Regions from separate parts of the Homo sapiens genome. Here region 2 is linked to region 1. The links come from fine-mapping of genetic effects on gene expression. A gene starts in region 1. The other region holds a variant in brackets. All regions are shown on one strand. Distances are from middle to middle. Region 1 holds the start of AMZ1 (archaelysin family metallopeptidase 1). Region 2 overlaps AMZ1 (archaelysin family metallopeptidase 1).

Region 1 (8,316 bases):
CTGGAGGGCAGTGGTCTGAAGTCAAGGCTGGGGCAGGGCCGAACTTCTGCAGAGGGCTCCAGGGGAAGGTCCTTCCTGCCTCTTCCTGCTTCTGGGGGCTCCAGGTGTCCTTGGCTTGTGGCTGCACCACTCCCATCTCCGTCTTCTCCTCTGTGTCTCTGTGTCTTCAACTTTCTGTTTTTTTGTTTGTTTGTTTGTTTTTGTTTTTGTTTTTTTTGAGACAGAGTCTGGCTCTGTCACCCAGGCTGGAGTGCAGTGGCACGATCTCGGCTCACTGCAAGCTCCGCCTCCCAGGTTCACACCATTCTCCTGCCTCAGACTCCCGAGTAGCTGGGACTACAGGTGCCTGCCACCACGCCTGGCTAATTTTTTTATATTTTTAATAGAGACGGGGTTTCACCGTGTTAGCCAGGATGGTCTCGATCTCCTGACCTCGTGATCCGCCTGCCTTGGCCTCCCAAAGTGCTGGGATTAGAGACGCGAGCCACCGCGCCCAGCTCTGTCTGTTTTTTACAATATTTTGTAGAGATGCTGCCCAGGCTGGTCTCCAACTCCTGGGCTCAAGTGATCCTCCCACCTCGGCTTCCCAAAGTGTTGGAGATTACAGGCGTGAGCCACCTCACCCAGCCTCTTTCTCTCTCTTTTTAAAAAATTGTTGGCTGGGTGTAGTGGCTCATGCCTATAATCCCAGCACTTTGGGAGGCCGAGGCGGGTGGATCACTTGAGGTCAGGAGTTTAAGACCAGCCTGGCCAACACAGTGAAACCCCATCTCTACTAAAAATACAAAAATTAGCTGGGCTTGGTGGCACGCGCCTATAATCCCAGCTACTCAGGAGGCTGAAGCAGGAGAATCGCTTGAACCTGGGAGGCAGAGGTTGCAGTGAGCCAAGATCACGCCACTGCACTCCAGCCCGGGTGACAGAGCGAGACTCCATCTCAAAAAAAAAAATTGTCATTATTTTTTACATTGTCTTGTTCCTCCAATGAGGAACCTCTTTCTGTCTCTTACAAAGTCACTTGCATTGGATTTAGGGCCCACCCTGACTCTGACCCAGGATGACCTCATCTTGAGATCCTTACTTTAACCATATCTGCAACGACTCGGTTTCCAAATAAGGTCCCATTCTGATGGTGCAAGTAGGCACATTTTTGGGAGCCGCTATGTAACCCACCCTGGGGAAACTGAGGCAGGGCAAGGTGAAGCAGCTTCCCCAGGCCACACAGTTCTCTTTTAACCCCAAGTCGGCCTGGGTCAGAGGATGGTGATGGGGTCAAAGTTGGGGGCGGCCCCCTTTGTTCATCACTGAAAGGACAGGGGTCCCCATATCACGGCCTCTTTCTAGAATAGACTCTGACGAGGTAGCTTCAACCAGAAAGGGGTGTGCAGTCTGCCGGTGGGAGACCAGCGTGTCCCGGGTGCAGTGTGGACAGGGCGTTGGCTGAGTGAAGCCTTGGCTGGCAGGGGCCAGGTCATCAGCAGGCTGCCTCTGTGTTTCGGGGGTCCTGGCACTGGGCATGGCGCCACCCAACTTGGGGCACCCAGGAGGGGCCCTACTCATCTGGGCTTCCAGTCTCCCGGGCTGACCCAACAGACAGAGGAGGAACTGCCACTCTGGGCTTGACACATAATTGCTTTTTTTTTTTTTTTTTTTGAGACGGAGTCTCTGTCGCCCAGGCTGGAGTGCAGTGGCGCGATCTCAGCTCACTGCAAGCTCCGCCTCCCAGGTTCACGCCATTCTCCTGCCTCAGCCTCCTGAGTAGCTGGGACTACAGGCGCCCGCCACCACGCCCGGCTAATTTTTTGTATCTTTAGTAAAGATGGAGTTTCACTGTGTTAGCCAGGATGGTCTTGATCTTCTGACCTCGTGATCCGCCCGCCTCGGCCTCCCAAAGTGCTGGGATTACAGGTTGAGCCGCCGCGCCCGGCCTCGATGCATAATTTCCTTTCCGGTGGCTATTCAGGGAGGGGCGTGGGGGTTGGGGGGAGGATATTCCACAACTTCTTTGTAATAAGCAGCTTTAGGACAGAACATTCAGGCCAGGCTCGGTGGCTCACGCCTGTAATCCCAGCAATTTGGGAGGCCAAGGCGGGTGGATCACTTGAAGTCAGGAGTTCGAGACCAGCCTGGCCAACAGGGTGAAGCCCTGTCCTTCCTAAAAATACAAAAATTAGCCGGGCGAGGTGACGGGCACCTGTAATCGCAGCTACTTGGGTGGCTGAGGCAGGAGAATCGCTTGAACCCAGGAAGTGGAGTTTGCAGTGAGCCGAGATCGCGCCACTTGTACTCCAGCTCTGGGCAACAGAGTGAGACTCCGTCTCAAAAAAAAAAAAAGGCCGGGTGCGGTGGCTCATGCCTGTAATCCCAGCACTTTGGGAGGCCGTGGCAGGCGGATCACGAGGTCAGGAGATCGAGACCATCCTGGCCAACATGGTGAAACCCCATCTCTACTAAAAACACAAAAATTAGCTAGGCATGATGGCAGGCGCCTGTAGTCCCAGCTACTTAGGAGGCTGAGGCAGGAGAATGGTGTGAACCCGGGAGGTGGAGCTTGCAGTGAGCCGAGATCACGCCACTGCACTCCAGCCTGAGTGACAGAGCGAGACTCCGTCTCAAGAAAAAAAAAAAAAAAAAAAAAAGAACATTCATCTTTTCTCAGGTTCTGGGTTCTCCATCCCCAACAGAAATAACCTGGAAAATCCCTGCGGCAACACGTGTGAAGAAGTGCAGCTTTCTGAGTCACAATCTATTTGTAGGAATTTATCCCAAGGTGAGGGGGACCAGATACCTGTACAAAGATCTGTGGAAACAAGATCGTCTATCACAGTGATATATGCTAGTGAGACACCAGGAGAAACCAAAATATCCCAAAGCAGGTGACAGATCCATGACACGGAGTCCAGCGCAGACCATCAGGGTGTGGAGACGGACTTTTGGCTATTGATGAGTGTGAAGTCACGGGCCGCCTGCAGAACGCAGTATGTGACGTGAATCCCTTAAAATATGTATTTAGGCTGGGCACGGTGGCTCATACCTGTGATCTCAACATTTTGGGAGGCCGAGCTGGGAGGGTTGTTTGAGCCCAGGAGTTTGAGACCAGCTTGAGCAACATAGCGAGATCCCATCTCTACATAAAAGTTTCAAAATTAGCCAGGTGTGATGGCACGTACCTGTAGTCTCAGCTACTCAGGAGGCTGAGGGAGGAGGATTGCTGGAGTCTAGGAGGTCGAGGCTACAGTGACTCGCGTTTATACCAGTGCATTCTAGCTTGGGCAATAGAGCAAGATCCTGTCTCAAAAAAAACTTTTTAAAAATACATTTCAATGTGGAGGAGAAGGCGATCAGAAGGATGTCTGACAAGAAGGTGAGAGAGGTTACCTCTACACAGTTGGCTTATGGGGTCTTCTTTTTGTTTTTATTTTTCATAATTTTCCAAATTTTGCACACCGGACACCTAGTGTTGTGTTGTTTTTCTCTCTCTCTCTTTTTTTTTTGAAACAAAGTCTTGCTTTGTCACCCAGGCTGGAGTGCAGTGGCATAATCTCGGCTCACTGCAACCTCCGCCTCCCGGGTTCAAGTGATTCTCCTGCTTCAGCCTCCCGAGTAGCTGGGACTATAGGCACCAGCCACCACGCCCAGCTAATTTTTTTATTTTTAATAGAGACGGGGTTTGACCATACTGGCCAGGCCGGTCTTGAACTCCTGACCTTGTGATCTGTCTGCCTCAGCCTCCCAAAGTGCTGGGATTACAGGCATGAGCCACCACGCCCAGCCGTGTTATTTCTTAAGGCTTAAAAAAATTCTTTGAGGCTGGGTGTGGTGGCTCACGCCTGTACTCCCAGCACTTTGAGAGGCTGAGGCGGGTGTATCATGAGGTCAAGAGTTTGATACCAGCCTGGCCAAGAAGGTGAAACCCCATCTCTATTAAAAATACAAAAATTAGCTGGACACAATGATGGGTACCTATAATCCCCACTACTCAGGCGGCTGAGGCAGAAGAATGACTTGAACCCCGGAGGTGGAGGTTGCAGTGAGCCCAGATTGCACCATTACACTCCAGCCTGGGCGACAGAGCGAGACTCCATCTAAAAAAAAAAAAAAATTCTTTGCACTGGTGTGGGACGATGGTGACGAATCCCTCAGCCATCTGTGGGGCGCTGCTGAGGGCGTGGGGGGCATTTCTGCACGGTGAAGCAGAGCTGGTGGGAGGCTGCCCGAGGGAAGCTGGTGCTGGGAGGGTTTGCAGAGAGGAAAAGGGCAGTTTATGGAAAAGGCCTCTGGGCTCTGTCTGGAGCCGTCATGCCGGCCTTCACGGCATCCTTCCGCACTTAGAGTCCTTTCCATCTCCTGGTGGCTGGCACAGGGCCAGGGCTGCACTCACAGCTGGCCAGGGTAGGGCAGGGCGCCCGTCCTCAGGGCCACTGACTGTAGGGCTAACCTAGGGGCCTGGTTCACCCCTCTCACCTGGGGCTTCGCTGATAAGCCTGGTTCACCTCCTCACCTGGTGGCCTCGTTCACCCCCTCACCTGGCGCCTTGCCTGATAGCCTGGTTCACCCCTCTCACCTGGGGCCTCTCCTGGTGGCCTGGTTCCCCTTCCTCACCTCGTGGCGCTGGTTCACCCCTCTCACCTGGGGCCTTAACTGGTGGCCTGGTTCACCTCTTCACCTGGCGCCTTGCAGAGTAGCCGGGTTTACTCCTCTCACCTGGGGAGGCACGAACTGGCCCGGGCTGACTGACCTCCCTCACCTGTTTGGCTTTAGGCTCTGGGGCCCCCCTGCCCGGGTGTTTCTGGGAGGCTGGAGGGTCCCACGTGAGCTCCACCGCGGGCAGCTGGAGGGAGTGGGGCAGGACGCTGAGCGCCGGGAGGGGTGTGGCCCTCCTGTCCTGCCCGCGGCCCCACACCGGCCCCAGTCCCGCCCGCCTCGGTCCCTGCCCCGCGCGCCGACGTCACCGGGACCTCCCGATCCTCCCGGCCCAGGCCGAGCTGCCCACGCTGCTGCCCGGGGCTCGGTGCCCGGCGCGGCCTCTGCCGGCTCCGGCGGGCGCGGGACTGCGAGGTAGGGGGGCGCGCGGGGAAGACTCGGGGGCGCAGGGACCGAGAGGGACCTCCGTGCCGGGGCGGGTGGGTAGGGGCAGCTCCGGGTCCAGCCCGGCCCGCGCACCAAGTCCCGAGGGCGCCCGGGCGGCGGCGGCTACGGGCGCGCGGGGACCGCGGAGACGCGAAGGGCGCACTTGGCGAGGGTTTGGTGCAGCGCCGCGCCGGGGTCCGCACAGCCCCGGCAGGTCCTGCAGAGGGAAGGCCGGGCCAGGGAAGGGCCACGCGCCCCCTCCCCGCCATCCTCTCCCAGGCCAGGGCGACCTGCGCGCTTCCCGATGGGAGCAAACTGGGGACGGGTCGGGAATCCAGGGCCAAGCGCCCGAAAGAAGGCGTTTCCGGGCTGGGGCGAGCCAGGTGGGTGCGGGACGTCCCCGGGGAACCTCCAGGGCGCCGAGAATCTCGTCGTGCCCAGGGCTCCCCGCAGCCTGTGTATGAGCCGGGGAGGGAGAAGGCTTCCTCCCCCAGGAGACTGAGGGAGAAGGCTGTGGATATGATCCCTGCAGGGATGTAAGACAGGTCTCAAAACCAGAAAAGCAAGGGAGGGGTGACAGAGAAATGGCAAACTTTACAAAGGACAGGGGAGGGCAGGGACCTGGGTCCTTTCTGCCCCCATCACGGGAGGGAAACACTTGGCAGAGGAGTTTGGGGTTCGCAGGTGAGGAGAGAGAACAGGAAGCCAAGAGTCTGGCCCGGAGGCCACTACCCCTGCGGTCTAAGCCCCCGGTTTTCCCTCCTAGCGAATGGAAACTGAGAGGTGAGAAACCCCCAAAACCATCCGTCCGTCTGGTTCTGCCTGAAGGTCTCCGCTGTCAGCTAATGAATAGCTCGATGCAGCTGCTGGGAGGTTTTGCAAAGCGCATTCAGAATAGCGAGAATCAGAGCATGGTTTCTTGCCCAAAGGCCAGGCATCTGCGTGGTCAGATGGGGGAGCATGAGTGCCCGGAGCTGTGCGGTTTAGGGCAGCCTGACCTTGGATACCTGGTTACTGGGCCAGTCTGGCGGCCCTTGTTGCTTAGAGCGGCAGAACCTCCCTGGGGGGGGGATGCGGACGTGCTCTTTTCCAGTCTTTGGACAAAAAAAGGCAAGGGGAGGAGGAAGGAGAAGCGTCTGAGTTTACCCATGGTATTAATAGCAGCAGGGCTGGAACTCGGGTGCTCTGGGAGAGGAGACGTCCTACCCCCTGTCCCCGTCAGAACATCCCTGCTCCAGGAGCAGCTGGGGTTCCAGTGTGAAGCGTGGCTTTGAAACCAGGCCCCGCTGGCCCCCAGCTGTGTCGCCAGGGCCAAGTCACTTAACGTCTGAGCCTCAGTTTCCCCACCTGAAACACCGCAGTGGCACCTGCGGCTCCGTGTGTGGCTTGGAGGACGCAGGCATGAGACCTGTTGGCTGCTGTCATGACTGCAGTTAGCAGAGGAGGGGGACACACTGTGACAGGGTCCAAAGGACAGCGAGAAACCTCCATCTGGGGGTCTCCTTTTTGGAGCATGGATGGGTTGGTGAGTGCCAGAGGGTGCTGCGAAGCTGACCCCCACTAAGGCGGCTCCCTCCCCGTGGGTACCCCCAGGGCTCACATGCAGCTCTGGCTCTATGTGAGGAGTGGTCTTGTGCAGAAATGACCTGGCAGGATGGAAGGACTCAGCTGGCAGCTGACAGTGGGGACCGGGGTTTTCCTGAATGACCCACGAAGACGAATGTGGCCACAAGGCTTCTTGAGAGGAAATAGTATGTGGGCAGACGTCATGCCCTGGATGCCCGAGAGCTGTACCCGTGTTAAGGGATGGAGGGAGCTAAGCGTTCTCATTCCTAGCTTGGAGCCTGTCACACCATTCTCCAGTCTGCACTAGGAGGTGGCTGTGTTTTTGTGTGTGTGTGAGAGAGAGAGAGAGACAGACAGACAGACAGACAGGGTCTTGCTCTGTCTTCCAGGCTGGAATGCAGTGATGCAATCATAGCTCACCACAGCCTCGACCTCCAGGGCGAAAGCAATCCTCCCATCTCAGCCTCCCTAGTAGCTGGGACCACAGGCATGCACAACCATGCCCAGCTAATTTTTAAAATGTTTTGTAGAGACGGGGTTTTGCCATATTTCCCCAGGCTGGTCTCAAACTCCTGGACTCAAGCGATTGTCCCGGGAGGTGGCTATTTTTAGAGCTTGCCTCTCACATCCTGTTGATCTTCCAGCCGGGCTAGTCTGGAGCTGGCGTGGCCACTCCTTCCCGGGCGGCTCAGGTTGGCTGAAGGTGGTGTTGTGTCTCTGGCTGGGTTTCCGATGTAGATGCTCTTGAGTTACCCACGTGCCCGCCACTGCTTGCGGGTGTGCAAACGGCCTCTGTGGTCGTGGCTCCTCTGTGCGTGTGCTCTGGTCCCCTGCAAAACTTGTCGCTGTGGCCCTTCCTGTTGCTCCCATTCGGTCCTCCCTGAATAACTTAGATGGGCCTGAGGTTGGCAGTTTGGGCCCAAGTCACACCTGGAACCAATGTGGTAGGGCTTGTGAACTTTTGGTAAAAAGAAGGCATTTCTCAGCCGGGTGTGGTGGCTCACCTCTGAAATCCCAGTGCTTTGGGAGGCCGAGGCAGGCAGACCACTTGAGGCCAGGAGTTCGATACTAGCCTGGCCAACATGGTGAAACCCTGTCTCTACTAAAGATAACAAAATTAGCCTGGCATGGTGGCATGCGTCTGTAGTCCCAGCTACTAGGGAGGCTGAGGCATGAGAATCGCTTGAACCCTGGAGGAGAAGGAGGTTGCAGTGAGCTGAGATTGTGCCACTGCACTCCAGCCTGGGTGACAGAGGCAAAAAAAAAAAAAAAAAAAGCATTTCTCATTTCCTGATGCTTTGCCTGGAGTAGGAGGGTTTGCTGGCAGGGAAGCCTCTGACCAGGGTTTTCGGGTGGTCAGGTGGGTGTGGGTGCTGGCAGGAAAGCCCCCTCAAGAGTAGGGGAAGGTCCGTGTGTGAGGACTGGAGTCAGGGGTCTCTGTGCTGGGAGTCAAGATCCAGGTGAGCTGTGTAACCCTGGGCAAGTGGCTTTCCCTCTCTGAGCCTCAGTCTCCTGGGTTATGACATGGGTGAATCTCAGGATGGCTTTGGAGGTCGGACAAGGTGTTGCATCAGAAAGTGATTTTGGGCCGGGCGCGGTGGCTCACACATATAATCCCAGCACTTCGGGAGGCCGAGGCGGGTGGATCACAAGGTCAGGAGTCTGAGAACAGCTTGGCCA
Region 2 (8,316 bases), 22 kb after region 1:
CACACGCATACATCACGTGGCCATCACCATAATCATATAGAGGGCGGCTCTCTACCCCTCTACCGGCCACCAAACCTTTCTCCTTAATCCACTCCTCCCCATCGTGGGTGTTGGAAGCAGCTGTTCTTTATCATTCACTCTGCCTGTCTGGCCATCTTTTGGCGGGAGGGTTGTCTAAATTCCCTAGGGTACTGTTACAGGGAGCAGCCACTGTTGAGATTTGGGGGTTGATAGGGGTCCCCTGGCTGGGGTGGGGTGCCATCCCCTGGGTGGCATGTTTCTTTGTCCTGGCCTGCTTTCTGGGTACAGCCTACACTCCACAGGCTTCCCCAGCCCCTGAGGTCCTACAGTGGGGTCTGGGGACAATGTGGCCTGCCTTGGCCCTGGCCCTAAAACACAGCCGGGGACCCCGTGCCTCTCAGGCTTGGCCTCTGCAGCCTCAGCTCTCCTCACCTCCCCCACGCCGTACACGGTGCGTCTCACCTGTTATGGCCTCTGACCTGTTGGTGCCAGGCCTGTGGCAGCTCAGAGACAGCACCAAGTCCCACAAGGGTCACTCCAGGGCTTTCCACCCCCTCTGCTTAGTGGACAAACTGCTGTTTTCCCCAGCCCCACACTTCAGAAGGTGCACGGGGGAGCCCTCGGGAAAAGGACATGCACTCGGGAAGGTTCAAAAGCAGGTGGAACTCAGAGGGTATGCCAGGTTGCATTTGTGGGGTCAGCTCAGCCTGGTTTTTAATTTTTTTTTAGAGATGGGGTCTTGCTTTGTGACCCAGGCTCAAGCGCAGTGGTGCGATCATAGCTCCCTGCAGCCTTGAACTCCTGGGCTCCTCTGCCTCAGCCTCCCAAGTAGCTGGGACCGCAGACACGTGCCATCACACCTGGCTAATTATTTTGATTGTTGTAGAGATGGGGTCCTGCCATCTTGCCCAGAGAGTAGCATGCTTTGGATCACTGTACTGGTTTCCTGGGACTGCCGTAACAAAGTACCACAAACTGAGTGGCTTAGGGACATTTCTTGTCTCACATCGCTGGAGCCTGCAGTTCTTAACCAAGGTTTTGGCAGGGCCACGTGGTCTCAGAAGGCTCCGTGGAGGGTGCTTCCTGGCTGCCTCCAGCTTCTGGAAGTTGCTGGCAATGCCCAGCCCTCTGTGGCTTCCAGATGCACAACTCCAACCTCAGCCTTTGACTTCCCGTGAGCTTTACGCCATGTGCCTCTGCGTCTCTTCTAAGACTCCAGTCACTGGGTCTCCTTCATGACCTCATCTTAACTGGATTACATCTGCACAGATCCTGTTTCCAAACAATGGCAGGTTCCGGGGGTTAGGACTTCCACCTGTCTTTTTGGGGGACATAGCCTGATCCACAACAATCATCACTGTCAATCATCATCACCTCATTAGCATCATTGTCAATCAATTACCCAGCTGCTCAGGAGGCCGAGGCAGGAAGATTGCTTGAGCCCAGGAGGTGGAGACTGCAGCGTGAGCTGTGATTGTACTCCAGCCTGGGTGACAGAATGGGATGTTATCTCAAAAACAAACACAGGGCCAGCTGTGGTGGGTCATGCCTGTAATCCCAGCACTTTGGGAGACCGAGGCAGACGGATCACGAGGGTAGGAGTTTGAGACCAGCTTGACTAACATGGTGAAATCTCCTTTCTACTAAAAATACAAAAATTAGCTGGGTGTGATGGCACGTGCCTGTAATCCCTGCTACTCAGGAAGCTGAGGCAGGAGAATGGCTTGAACCTGGGAGGCGGAGGTTACAGTGAACTGAGATAGATAGCGCCACTACACTGCAGCCTGGGCAACAAAGCAACACTCCATCTCAAAAAAAAAAAACAAAAAAACACACACACACAGAACAACCTCCTTGTCAATCTGTTCCTTTTAATGGTAGAACTCCTTGGAAAACACTTCTCCGGTGTGCCTCTGTGCCGCAACCCCTCTTCTCTACACTAACTCTGAGACCCTCTCCGGGTTTCCTGGGCCCGTGGTGGCTGCTCTGCCCCCTTCCCTCCCTGGGCTTCTGGTTTCCCGGCTTTGATGCCATCGTGCCCAGGTTCAGCCCCTGGGCCTCTCCTGTATCTGTCCACACTCATGCTCCGGGGAACCATGCTAACAAGTTACACAACTTGCTAGCTTGGATGACCCACTGTGATCTCACAGTGCTGTGGGTCAGGAGCGCCCCCACTGCCCAGGCTAAAGTCAAGGGTTGGCTCCAGGAAACTCCAGGGAGAATCCATTTCCTGCCCTTTCCAGCTTCTAGAGGCACCCGTATCCTTGGCTAATGGTCCTTCCTCCGAGCCAGCCCTGCAGTGCCCTCAGGCCTCACGTTCTCACCCAGACCCCCTGCTGCCTCTAACGAGGGCTTTTTTTTTTTTTTTTTTTTTTTGAGATGGAGTCTGGCTCTGTTGCCCAGGCTAGAGGGCAGTGGCGTGATGTCAGCTCATTGCCACCTCTACCTCCTGGGTTCAAGCAATTCTCCCGTCTCAGACTCCTGAGTAGTTGGGATTACAGGCACGCACCACCAGGCCCGGCTCATTTTGTATTTTTAGTAGAGATGGGGTTTTGTCATGTTGGCCAGGCTGGTCTCGAACTCCTGACCTCAGGTGATCTGCCCATCTTGGCCTCCCGAGTTGCTGGCATCACAGGTGTGAGCCACTGTGCCCGGCCTTACCGAGGGTTCTTGTGATGGCATCAGGCTCAGCTGGCTGCTGCAGAAAAACGCCTCCATCCCAAGATCTTTAATCATCTGCAGCCCCTTTGGCTGTGGGGACTCACAGGTCCCAGGGCTGAGACGTGGACTCTCTGGGGCTGTCGCTCAGCTGCTGAGGTGGCTTCTCCTTCCTGGGGCTGCAAGCGCCAGTCTTGTTGGCCCGGCTGCCTCTCCAGCGTCCCCACTGGGCTGTCCATGGCCTTTGACTTACCATGTCCTGATCTCCAAATGGCCCTGGCTGTCACTCCACATCATGCAGTACTGTGTGCCCTCAGGTCACACCAAACGCTGGTGGCCCACACCTGACTTGGGAAGGGGCAGGGCCCAGGCAGAGGAAGAGGATGACGGGGTGCCAGCCTGAGCCTGGAAGATGGGGGTCCCCGGCTGCCTCCTGACCCCATCCTCTGGCCCTCTCCCCGCAGACGGCATCCTGTCCTTCTTGAAGAACAACAAGCCAGGGGACGCGCTGTGTGTGCTGGGCCTCACACTGTCTGACCTGTACCCCCATGAGGCCTGGAGCTTCACCTTCAGCAAGTTCCTTCCAGGGCACGGTGAGCCGGGGCCCCAGCAGCTGTGCGTGGGGGGTAGCCTGGCATGGGGCTGTGGCCTCCGTGGCTGCAGGGCACCCTCTTTGCTTTTGCTTCAAGCACC[C/G]TCCTGGTGGAAGTCAACACCTGTGCATGGGAATAGATGGCCCCTTCCAGCTCCTCCTGAGGAATGGCATAGGGGCTGTTCCTCAGCTGTGGCGTCTGCCCCAGGGCCCAACTTCATGTGGGCAGGACAGGGCCTCCCAGGACTGGTATGTCTTTGGGCCATGGCCAGCTTGCATGAGAGCATGAGGTGGGTTTGACGGTGGGCCCCCCAGAGCCAAGGCTGACCCCTGAGAGTGCCCTTCTCTCCATCTCTCTCCAGAAGTGGGCGTCTGCAGCTTCGCCCGGTTCTCAGGGGAATTCCCGAAGTCGGGGCCCAGCGCCCCTGATCTGGCCCTGGTAGAGGCAGCAGCAGACGGCCCCGAGGCCCCCCTGCAGGACAGGGGCTGGGCCCTGTGCTTCAGTGCCCTGGGGATGGTTCAGTGCTGCAAGGTGGGTGGGGGCTCTGGGGCTGGTAAGAGGGGACAGGAGGGTGCTGTCTGAGCCCTTGGTGCCTCGGTCTGTTACACTGCCCCATCCTCACAGTGAAGTGGATGGACCCCTAACTCTATGGAATGAGGAAAGCAAGGCTACACAGCTATGAAGCAGCAGGGGAGGGATTAGAGCCCCAAGCCCCTATCCTGTGTGGCCTCCCACCCTGACTCACCTTTCCCCTGGGGCCCTGAAAGTGGCCTGTGCCGCCTGGGGCAGGGGGAGGGCGCCTGGACCACCTCCCGGCCATCTGGCCTCACCCAGGTCCTCATTTTGGTCCTGCTGGGGCTGCCTGGGGATCTGCCGGATGCAGGGGCAAGGCAGTGAGGCAAGGTGCTTGGTGGCCTTCCCCCCAGGTCACGTGCCACGAGCTCTGCCACCTTCTGGGCCTGGGGAACTGCCGCTGGCTCCGCTGCCTCATGCAGGGTGCGCTCAGCCTGGACGAGGCCCTGCGGCGGCCCCTGGACCTCTGTCCCATCTGCCTGAGGAAGCTGCAGCATGTCCTGGGTTTCAGGCTCATCGAGAGGTACCAGGTGAGTGGCTGAGTTGCGCTGCCCGGCTGCTGGGACCTGCGCTCCGGAGGCCCGCGAGCGCCGCCTGGAGGCTACGCAGGGCATGGGGACCGCACACAGGCTTTGTCAACTGCCGGGTTCCAGGCAGTGCAGAGCCCTGGGACCTGCGCTGGGGTTGAGCTCCATCCGGATCTCACTGGCAGTAGATCGAGTCCTGCCAGGGCCCGCGTGTGGTGGCTGTGACTGGGAGGTTGCAGCGGGGTCGAGTGGGGACGAGGGCTTTTCTCCCTCTGTCAGGAAGAGCTGGCATTGGAGCCCAGCCGGCGGGTGGCACGGTCTTCCCAGGGTAACTTTCTCTTTGCTTTCCCGTCACCCACACTTGGGTCACTGCTGCTCAGAGGAGGCACAGGCCCCTTGCGAGGAGGTGGGAGCTGACACAACAAGGCTTGTTGGAGGTGGCCTCCATTCCTAACTCCCTCTGTCGCCTGGGTGGGGTTGCCGAGCAAAGGGCTCGTCCGTATTCATGGACATTTGTTTGCAAGCTCAAAAGCTTTACTCTGAGTTCTGAGTGCAAAGGCAGGTGGTGGTAATTTTTCTTCAAACCCAGCTTTGGACTACAACCAGTTATAAGGTGCTCACTGCGTACAGGCACCAGAGCAGTCAATGAAACCGCGCTGGAAAGCCCCTGCATCCTCCTCCCGCCCGTTGAGGCAAGTGGGGGTGTGGTTCCCGGACCGAGCCTGTCAGAATCCCCTGCAGGGCCTAGCTGGGCCCTCCTTCCTTCTGGGGTAGAGTGAGGAGCTGTATCTTGCAGGGTCCTGGGTGACACTGAACTAGAGGCCGTGGCATTTCTAGCTCACAGTGCTGGAATCTCTCTGCAGGGATCCTCTCTGAAGACTCTGGCAGTCAAGGGAAGGTGAAGGGGGCACAGAGGAAACAGCTTTTCCAAGTGTAAGGAGAAGAGCCTGTGACTTGGGGGGAACCCAGGCGCAGCCATGGCTGAGGGTAGGAGCATCTCCCGAGGGTACAGGTGGCGTGATGGCTGGTCAGCACCTGGTGATGCCTTGTAAAGGTTGCTGCTGCCAGCTGTGCCCCGTCAAGGGGCAGCTCTTAGTACCTTCCTGAGGCTGTGTAACAGGCACAGGGGCAGCTTGGTCTGCAGAAAGGGTTGAGAGCTCTCATTTGATGCCTTCACCTGGGGTCTTGTGCAACCATCTGACATGAACTTTTAGAAAGTGTATGCCCCTCCCTACACGTGCTGACCTGGCATAGCCTGGATCCACCTGGATCTGAGCTGGAGGGTGTAGCTCCTCCTCCTGCCCAGAGCTCTCTCCGTTCCGTGAGCACCATCTCCTGAGGCTGTGGAGGGAAGAGGGCCAGGGCAAAGGCACTCCAGGGTGGCCTGGCCCTCCTGGCTGTTGTAGGGAGGGCAGTGGTGTGGATGTGAGGTCACCTGCTGTCCCAGGGCTTGGGGAGGTGCTGGAGAGCTGACCAAGGGCCTGGCCAGAAAAGGTCACTGCTGTCCACTGACAGCAATCAGTGAAATGCCTCTTGAAGAAAGCCTGACTTGTTGTGGTCTCTGCCACTTCCTGTGGTGTAAACAGTCTCACGATGGCTGATGTGAGCTCCCAATGTGATGTCAGTGAGTGCTGAGTTGGGAACAGATGTGCAGTGGGACCTTGTTAAACTGTGTGTCCCCTGTACAGATGCAGGAGAGGAGACTAACCTTGAGAGCAGAGGTGAGAGTGAAATGGAGAAAACATTTAGGAAGTGAGTTTCAAGTACTGCCTTTGCTTTACATTTTTTTCCCCCTGGTGGTCTCACTATGTTGCCCAGGCTGGTCTTGAACTCCTGGTTTCAAGTGATCCTCCTGCCTCTGCCTCCCTGTGCTGGGATTACAAGCGTGAGCCACCATGCCCACACCTTTGCTTTAAAATTTTAAATTTTATTTAATTATACGCTTTCTGGGTGGGTGCCGTGGCTCACACCTGTAATCCCAGCACTTTGGGAGGCGGAGGTGGGTGGGTCATCTGAGGTCAGGAGTTTGAGACCAGCCTGGCTAACATGGTGAAACCCCGTCTCCACTAAAAAATGTAAAAATTAGCCAGGCATGCTGGCAGGAACCTGTAAAATCCCTGCTACTCAGGAGGCCAACGCAGGAGAATTGCTTGAACCTGGGAGGGGGAGGTTGCAGTGAGCTGAGATCGCAGCACTGCACTCCAGCCTGGCCAACAGAGTGAGCCTCTGTCTTAAAAAAATCGAAAAATGTTAAGTGTTCTAACTTTGGATGACAAGGAGCTTGCGAAGTTCCTGAATGGTGAGCTCTTGGGGGTGGGTACCTCTGACTCTGGCACAGCCTGGACATGAGTCCTCAAAGGGTGCTGGTCACAAGAGCCCTCACACCACCAGCCTGACTCCCGCCCCTGGGTAACTGAGGACGGTGGGGTCCCCTTAGGTAAGGAGGTCTCCTGGCAGTTCCCTGGCTAGACAAGGGCTGGCACGGAGCAAACTCAGCCTGTGTTTCTCCCTCTTAGAGACTCTACACCTGGACTCAGGCGGTGGTGGGGACGTGGCCCAGCCAGGAGGCGGGGGAGCCGTCAGTGTGGGAGGACACCCCGCCTGCCAGCGCCGACTCGGGCATGTGCTGTGAGAGTGACTCGGAGCCCGGCACCAGTGTGTCGGAGCCCCTCACCCCTGATGCCGGGAGTCACACCTTCGCCTCGGGGCCAGAGGAAGGGCTGAGCTACCTGGCAGCCTCAGAGGCTCCGCTGCCACCTGGGGGCCCTGCGGAGGCCATCAAGGAGCATGAACGGTGGCTGGCCATGTGCATCCAGGCCCTGCAGCGGGAAGTGGCAGAGGAGGACCTGGTGCAGGTGGACAGAGCCGTGGACGCCCTCGACCGCTGGGAGATGTTCACGGGCCAGCTCCCGGCCACCAGGCAGGACCCACCCAGCAGCAGGGACAGCGTGGGGCTGCGCAAGGTGCTGGGGGACAAGTTCTCCTCCCTGAGGAGGAAGCTGAGTGCCCGAAAACTCGCCAGAGCAGAGTCGGCCCCCCGTCCCTGGGATGGGGAAGAGAGTTAGTACAGCAGGGGCTGCCCTACGTCTCCTTCCCTAAGGATGCTGGCCAGCACTGTCCAGTAGCTGAGGCCACTACTGACCTGCCAGGGATAAAGAGGAAGGGTCTGCCTGGGTGGTGGCTCAGGCCTGTCATCCCATCACTTTGAGAGGCCAGGAGTTTGAGACCAGACTGGGCAACATGGTGAGACTCTGCCTCTACAAAAGAAAAATTAAAAAATTAGCTGGATGAAGTGGTTCATGCCTGTGTTCCCAGCTATTCAGGAGGCTGAGGTGGGAGGATTGCTTGAGCCTAGGAGGTCGAGGCTGCAGTGGGATGTGATCATACCACTGTACTGCAGTCTGGGCCACACAGAAAGACTGTCTCCAGAAAAAAAAAAGTTCTTTGGAGAAGCCACAGACCACCTGTCTTCAGGCGCCTCCTTCAACTCCTGAGTCCCAGCCAGCCGCTCCCAGGGGCCTGCACACATGGAGAGGCCTCCCTGATCCTGGGTGCTTCTCGTGGAGTACAAGCCGGACTGTGCTGAGGTTGGGACAGAGCCCCCTCCCCTGCAGAGGCAGAAGGAAGCAGCGTGCGTCCTGTCTCCTTCCAGGCTGTGGGCCTGCCCTTCAGTTATTTATAGCTGGAGCTGGAGAGGCTGGCTCAGATGAGGAGTGACCCCGGGGGCACACAGGCTCCACACTGCCACCCAGCTTCCAAGGCTGAGTCTCCTCCCTAACGGGGAAGTGACGGGGTTTTGTCTCTATCATCTCAGGCGTCAACCACATGCACACACACACTGTCACGTTCTGTGGCGCTAACAGCATCCTGATCCTGACGGACTTCACCGGGGCTCTCCAGGCATCTCTTCTGACAAACACTGCAGGAGGTGAGGGTGTCTGACGTGC

Evidence for each region. PIP is the estimated chance that this variant, and not a neighbour inherited with it, causes the effect.
Region 2: its variant is fine-mapped to the expression of AMZ1 in whole blood (TOPMed, PIP above 0.99).

What each region holds. Positions count from the first base shown.
Region 1 is chr7:2,683,239-2,691,554 of GRCh38, forward strand. AMZ1 (archaelysin family metallopeptidase 1) reads left to right here and starts at 4,964. Exons shown (of 7, transcript NM_001384743.1): 1 at 4,964-5,058. RefSeq lists an enhancer at 5,663-5,932.
Region 2 is chr7:2,705,445-2,713,760 of GRCh38, forward strand. It overlaps AMZ1 (archaelysin family metallopeptidase 1), which reads left to right. Exons shown (of 7, transcript NM_001384743.1): 4 at 3,144-3,272; 5 at 3,631-3,800; 6 at 4,196-4,372; 7 at 6,886-8,316. The coding sequence ends at 7,434. Among named protein-coding and RNA genes, the nearest start is that of AMZ1, 21 kb to the left of the region's middle. RefSeq lists enhancers at 4,100-4,199, 4,119-4,814, 4,960-5,179, 5,190-5,239, 5,880-6,039 and silencers at 4,360-4,519, 7,698-7,897. The variant C/G (reference allele first, on the strand shown) is at 3,373.